Homo sapiens: one gene and its partner. The protein of the gene in region 1 interacts with the protein of each later gene in a pairwise test. Each region holds a gene or a part of one and is shown on either strand. Other genes may lie near its edges.

Region 1 (3,500 bases):
AGTCTTCCCCTCCTCTCCCCACACCCATTCTTTTCCAGAAATGCTTCCGGCCTGTGCACGTGTATATATGTGCATGTCTTTTCTTGGGCCATAGCTGTGACCTCGTCTTAACTTGATTCTATCTGCAAAGACCCTATATAAACCTTTGATTATATCCAAGTCAGGCCACATTCACAGGTTCCCAGTGAGCATCAGTTTTGTGGGGACATTATGCAGCCTGGTTCCGAGGGAGATCTAGTGTATTTTACCAGTGACCTTGCCCTTCCTGTTGGAATTACTTGCATGTATTCCTCCACCTCTTTCCTATGGCCTGGGGCAAGAGCTCAAACTGTGCGAGACGGAGGGTCGGGACTCCGGTGGGCTCCCTGTGCTGGAGCCGCTGGGAGGGAGCTCCCTGGACAATATGACCCTCCCTACCGGGCCAGCAGGAGAAGCTGGCAGCCCATCTGTCTCAGCTCTTCTGGCCCTTGTGGTGTTCTGGGGGCTGCAGGGTTCTGGGGACTCTTTGTAGATGGAGTTGGTGCTCCTCCAAGGCTTCCCTGCTCTCCAGTACAAGGGGAACTTGGCCAGGGGGCTGGTTTTTGAGTGTTCTTGGACCAGCGACTAAAGCCCGTGGCTTTTCTCTTTCAAATGCTTGGGTAGGGGGCTTGTGGCCTCACCTCCTTAGGGAGGGCACTCTTCTTCCTTGGTCTTTGTCACTTGAAGACTGTTTCTGTGATGTCTGCTGCTGGGAGCCACATTGGATCCCAGGGGCTTCCCCCAAGGTCCGTGCCCCAGTCTGGGAAGTCATTCTCTGTTGCTCTTCTCAGCAGAGGTCCCTGCTGCCTGCCTGTGCCCTGTGTGGCTGGGTGTCGGCCTCAGGGAGCAGCCTGGTGGCAAGGTGGGGGTAGGTGGGGTTTTCCTGTCCACAGCTGCCCTCATGGCCCCTGCTGTCCCAGTGGATTCTGTCATTTGGTTGCAGCTGGGATGCATTTTGCTACTTTGGGTGTTTTGCTTCACAGGTACTCTTTGGGGTTCCCAAACTTGTCGATTGTGCTGGCCCCCACACCCACAAAGTCTGATCTGGCAGTTAGCCACGCTGTTAGGGCTTACATCAGGGAGGTGTGGCCATTTCTTTGTTCCAGGCATCATGTTGGGGTGAGTCTGCAGGAGCGCCCTACACGTCTTTATCCTGTGCCTGCGCCTCTCCCTTGGCCTGCTCTGGAAGGGACCTTGCTGTGTGCTTGCTTGGCCAGACCTATGGGTGTCAGCAGAGCCTTGCTAGCCAAACCTCTGAGGAGAGTTCCTGGGCCAAGGGCTGGCTGGCCCATGTGACTTTTGGGGGCTCAGGAGGAGCCTGTTGTGTTGGGGAGTCTCTCTGCTCAGGTCCTGTGTCTGAATAGGGACCCTGCTGGCCCTCTGGTGGTCTCCTCCACACCTGTAGTGATGTAGGGAGGTGGGGGTAGTTGAATGACAAAGGAAGGAACGAAGGTGGTTAGAGGAGCAGATGCGGTCAGTTGGGTTGGCCAGCAGCAGGCAGGGCCCACGGAGGGCGGGGAGGGCAGCTTAAGGACCTGCTGCCAGCTTAGGGCCCAGCCCCAGGAGGCTCCCGCTGTGTCTCCCCTGGGCCTGGGTAGGCATAGCTGGGCCCAGCCCACACCAGGTGGCAGCAGCTGCTGGATTGTGGCCCTGAGTGAGGTGCTCCCCAGCAGCACATAGCTCTGCCTCCCTTCCAGGGTCTCCCCACAGCCCCGCCCCCAGCAGTTCCCACCTCCGGTTGTCCAGACTTTGTTTTATGGGAAAGTTTGCTGTGGAAGAGCTGTACTGCAGACACACCACAGAAACTGAAAACATTACCTGCCACCTGGGGTAGGGGAAATAAGAAAAAAGAAAAAACATCCAGAAACAGAAAAATAGAGTCCCATCTTCCCAACACAACCATTCTTAGCATTGGAGTGTATTTCTTACTTTCTCCCCACTTTTAATGTTTTGTTTTTCTTAAATATTCATATGACAGAGCACTTTGGGAGGCTCAGGTGGGCAGATCATGAGGTCAGGAGATTAGCCTGGTGTGGTGGCGTGTGTCTGTAGTCCTAGCTACTCGGGAGGCTGAGGCAGGAGAATCACTTGAACTAGGGAGTGGGAGGTTGCAGTGAGCTGAGATGTTGCCGCTGTACTCCAGCCTGGTGACAGAGAGGGACTCTGTGTGTCCCACCACTCTAGCTGAAGAAATATGTTCACTTTTTAATTTTAGAAGTAATCTGTGCTCACCATAAAGACGTCCAAACCCTGCAGAAGTATAACACACACCACCCTGTGGCCTGGTCCTCCTGCTCGGGGTCACCCGTGACGGCTCTTCTCAGAGCGTGGTGGGGGTGCCACATAAACACAACTGCCCGACGCCATCCTGCAGCCCCCGTGAGGTCCTTGCAGGGTCTTGGGGCCTTCCCTTTTGTCCAGAGCTGCACAGGGTTGGCCTAGTCAGAGACTTTTCCTGCCTGTCTCTGACCCTAGCATCTCTGTGCATCAGTTACTTATTCATTATCATTAATTATTAACTGTGCTTCTTCCAGAAGCTGGACGGGAGGTCCCTGATCAAGCTGAACTTTTCCAAGAACAGTGAGGGTGAGTGGAACTATCACAGCCAATTCTGGGCTTGACCTGCAGACCCAAGGGCCCAGCTCTCACCAGTTTTCATACGGAATCAGTCATTGCTTTCTGACCAAGCTAGACACCTGCTTTTAATTCCGCAAAAAGTGTCACAGGGCTGGGCACGGTGGCTCACACCTGTAAACCCAGCAGTTTGGGAGGCCGAGGCGGATGGTTCACGAGGTCAAGAGATTGAGACCATCCTGGCCAACATGGTAAAACCCCGTTTCTACTAAAAATACAAAAATTAGCCGGGCATGGTGGCGGGCGCCTGTAGTCCCAGCTACTCGGGAGGCTGAGGCAGGAGAATCACTTGAACCCAGGAGGCAGAGGTTGCAGTGAGCCAAGATGGTGCCACTGCACTCCAGCCTGGCAACAGAGCGAGACTCTGTCTCAAAAAAAAAAGGTGTCACAAGATTTCTTCTCAAAGGTCTGGGTAGTTTTAAGGTGGGGGAGGTTGGGGGCAGAACCTGTGGTGTTGGGAACTTCCCACAAAGGCGATCAGGCCATTGTAAGCTGCTAGTGGCCTTTGTGGGCACAGTTGGATCTGCAGGGCATGGGCCCCCTCTGGCTGAGGCTGTGGTCTGTTTGTTGTTGGAGGCAGAAGTTGCTCATGCTGGGAACCAAGGCGGCAGCTGAGTAGGGGATGTGGGTGGTCTGGAGGGATTTGTCCAGTAGCTCTTGGGCTAGGCTTTTCTTTGCCACAGCTCATAGAGCCCAGCCCAGTGCTGCGGCTCCTGCTTCATGCCCATTACACACCTTCCGCTGTTCTTGTGGCCAGAGGCCCGGATGAGTTGTGCAGCCCACCCCTGCCCAGGTGGTGATCTTGTGCTAGGTTCTAGTCCAGGTCTTTTGCCTGTGGAGATGCTATG
Region 2 (3,500 bases), on another chromosome or scaffold:
CAGCTAATTTTGTATTTTTGGTAGAGACTGGGGTTTCTCCATGTTGGTCAGGCAGGTCTTCAACTCCTGACCTCAGGTGATCTGACCACCTTGGCCTCCCAAAGTGCCGGGATTACAGGTGTGAGCCACCACGCCAGCCAACCATTGTCTTTAAAAGAGCTGTGCCCCCTCCAGATGTAAGCCCCTCCAGTTCTGAGCTCTATGTCTTACACTTAGGCTCTTAGTACGCATTTGAAAGAATGAATTAGGTTTCCTTAAGTAAATAATTTCCCTTTAGAGTTTGGTGCTGAAGTAGAAGTAATTAGAAGTAATTAACTCTCAACCATTTCGTTCAATTGATATTGAGCTCTTTCTTTGTACCTGGAGCTAAGAATGTACAGTAGTGAACATGATAGCCCCAGCCCGAAAGGAGCTTATGATCTACTGGAGAAAACACAGAAGGAAATAGATTTTAGGACAAGGCAGAGAAGGACCGTGATAAGCTGGTGCCATTGGAGTATACCTAGTGGGCATTAGTCCAGTCTTGGGAGGTTGGGGAGCCCTCTGGGGGGAGATGTCTAAGCAGAGATAAGGCTGAAGAAAGGGTAGTATGGGAGCAGCACAGCAGAGGAAACAATGTATAAAAGCTTGGAGGACAGAGAGGGACAGTGCTTTCAGGGAACCTCAGGTGAGTAAAGCACAGTGGCTGGAGCATTTGAGAGGGTGGGGAGTGCTGAGAGAATGGGGCTAGAGAGAGAGAGGCTCAGGCCAGATAATGGGCCTTGGATGCCATGCTAGGGTCTTTCTACCTCATTTTGGGGTTGTGAAGACCCCTTAAAGGCAAGAATTCTCTGATCACAGAGTGGTGAGAACCTTGGAGGGAGCAAGACTGGCAGAATGTGAGAGGCTGGTGGCCTGGATGATGAACTAGGGGATGGAGAGAACTGGAGCATCGAGGTATATTTAGGAGGGGGAAGTGATAAGACTGGAGGATTGATTAGATGTTACACTAAGGAGAGGATTCAAGATTGACCCCCACTGCATTTGCCTCAGGCAGCTGGGGGGTGGTGTTGCCATTTATTGAGGGAATACGGGAGGCAGAGCAGATTGGGGGTTAGTTAGATTTCATTTGTTGCAAGTGTTAGAAGCCAACTCAAGCTAGTTTAAATGTTTTTTTTTTTTCTTCTTTTTTAAATAAATAGAGACGTTGTCTCGCTACATTGCCCAGGCTGGTCTTGAACTCTTGAGCTCAAGCAGCCCTCCTGCCTTGGCCTCTCAAAGTACTGGGATTACAGATGTGAGCCACCACGCCTAGCCTTAAATGGTAATGCATCATAAATATACTGTGGTACCTCAGAAGGGACCTGCATCAGGAACCTGAGATCTGTTGGGGATCTCTACACAGCTGTTCTTTGCACATCTGATTCATTTTTTAAAAAATTTGTTTTATTTTTAAATTTTAATATATTTATTTATTTATTTGTTTTGAGACCAGATTATGGGACTGGTCAATTTTTGTATTTTTAGTAGAGATGGGGTTTCACCATGTTGCCAAGGCTGGTCTCAAACTCCTGGGCTCAACTGATCTGCCTGCCTCAGCCTCCCAAAGTGCTGGGATTACAGGCGTGAGCCACTGCTTCTGGCCTTGATTCATTATTTCTCTGCGGATTGGCTTCTTAACCTTTGTTGTAGGTGAAGGATGGCCACCCACACCTTGGTTTTGATTTCTTTCCTTTTAGAGATCAGTCCAGATTGAACTATGATGGTAGTCTCAATTCTGGTTTTCCTGGAGTGAGAATTTGGTTGATTTGATTTGGGTCATATTATCCAATCATCTGCAGTCAGCGTAGTACCAAATTCTCCCTCCAGGCGTATTCCAAAATTAAATTCAGTCAGCTTTTGATTTTTGTGGGGAATTAGGAATGATCCATAGAATGGATAATCGTCCTTTCTTTTTCCCTTCTTGCTGTGACCCAAGCTACACTGGTTGATTTCATAGGCTCAGGGGAGGCAGACTTCTCCTAGCATATGAGAAACCAAAATCAGAAGAATAAGTCTGCTGGAAGAGTTTTCTATCATTTATAAAGTGTATTCCAAAGCACACAGAAATTTCAGGGTTATCTGGATTAGTATTTACCACCACTTTCAGATTGTTTACCAAGATAGTAGAAAATTTGAAGCTCTGAGACAGATTTCACTAATTTTTGTCACTTCTAGTAACCAAATAAGAATTGCCTGCAGTGGATTTAGCTAAGTTTTAGCCCTAGCTAAAGGGAAGGGAGAGTGTGCTTATCTGTGTGGGGCACCTGCTTAATGTCTGAACTGTGCTGGGCACTTACTTTAGTTTATAAAGAAGAAAACAGGAGTTTAGAGAACAGAAGTGATTTGCCTGAAAACACAGTTTGTGAGTAGCTGCAATTGTATTTGAACCTGGATGAGATTTGTTGTGTTTATCGGGGTGTCTATGGAAAACATGGAAGAGCCTGGGGCAGCCAGAAAGCAGAAAGCAATACAAATGAGGAGTGCAAAAATGGGAGTGAAAACGGTATCCTAGCAGCAGGTACTTGAGACTTAAGAGTGAAAAAGGGTTGATGAATGTAGCAAATGGGGATAACAGTAGTAATGATTAGGGTTTGGAGCCCCGGGGTGTGGTGCTTAGGGGGCGTCTGTTCTTGGGTTCTTATTTCCTCCTTGGCTTTTAGTCCTGGAAGCTAGTGATTGCTTTTTGGAGAGGGAGTGTCTCAGAGCCAGAGCCTGGGAAGATAAGAGAGAGGCCGCCGTGGGGAATGAGGCTCTGATAGATTAGCAGATCCCACTGGACCTAGCTTAATGGAAAATGTCTGTTTCCGTTCTTGCTCAGCAGTCTCGGGGTATGTGTGTCTTGTCACTCTTGGCAGCTGGAACAGAGAGGACAGTGGTGGCCATTGAGGCTCAGGTTCTCGTGAGGCCAAGAAGAAATACAATACTTTCTTATTAACAGACTCAACAGTTTGTGCCTCAAAACCAATGTGTGCCTATTGTGGCCCGGGACACTCTCAGCCCTGGATGCTCCGGTGTTTCTAGCATTGTCCTTCTTTCTTGATCTAATGGCACAGACCCACTCAGATGGCCATTTGCTGGTCTTTAGCACTCTCTAGAAGTTGACTCCACAACCTCCATTTAATATACTCTTGAGGAAAACAGTTTGGCAGTTCCTCAAAAGGTTAAACAAACAGAATGATGATCCACCAATTTCACTTCTAGGTGAAAAGAATCAAAAGTGGAGATTCAAACAGATACTTGTACACCAGTGTTCATAGTAGCAATACTCCCAGTAGCCAAAGGTGGCAACAACCCAAGTGTTCATCCACAAATGAATAGGTAAAATGTGGTATGTGCACACGTTAGGATATTATTCAACCTGAAAAAGGAATGAAATTCCGATACGTGCTACAACATGGATAGACCTTGAAGACATTATGCTAAGTAAAGTAAGCCAGTCACAAAAGGACAAATATTTTATAGTTGCGCTTATATGAGGT

What was found.
Region 2: the proteins of PPIL2 (region 1) and PRCC interact in a two-hybrid assay, tested with the Homo sapiens proteins (one large-scale study listed by BioGRID and IntAct).

The regions. Positions count from the first base shown.
Region 1 is NC_000022.11:21,672,512-21,676,011, forward strand, and holds part of PPIL2 (RING-type E3 ubiquitin-protein ligase PPIL2), read left to right. Parts: intron 1-2,552; coding exon 2,553-2,604; intron 2,605-3,500. UniProt on the Homo sapiens protein: Has a ubiquitin-protein ligase activity acting as an E3 ubiquitin protein ligase or as an ubiquitin-ubiquitin ligase promoting elongation of ubiquitin chains on substrates.
Region 2 is NC_000001.11:156,770,535-156,774,034, forward strand, and holds part of PRCC (proline-rich protein PRCC), read left to right. Parts: intron 1-3,500. UniProt on the Homo sapiens protein: May regulate cell cycle progression through interaction with MAD2L2.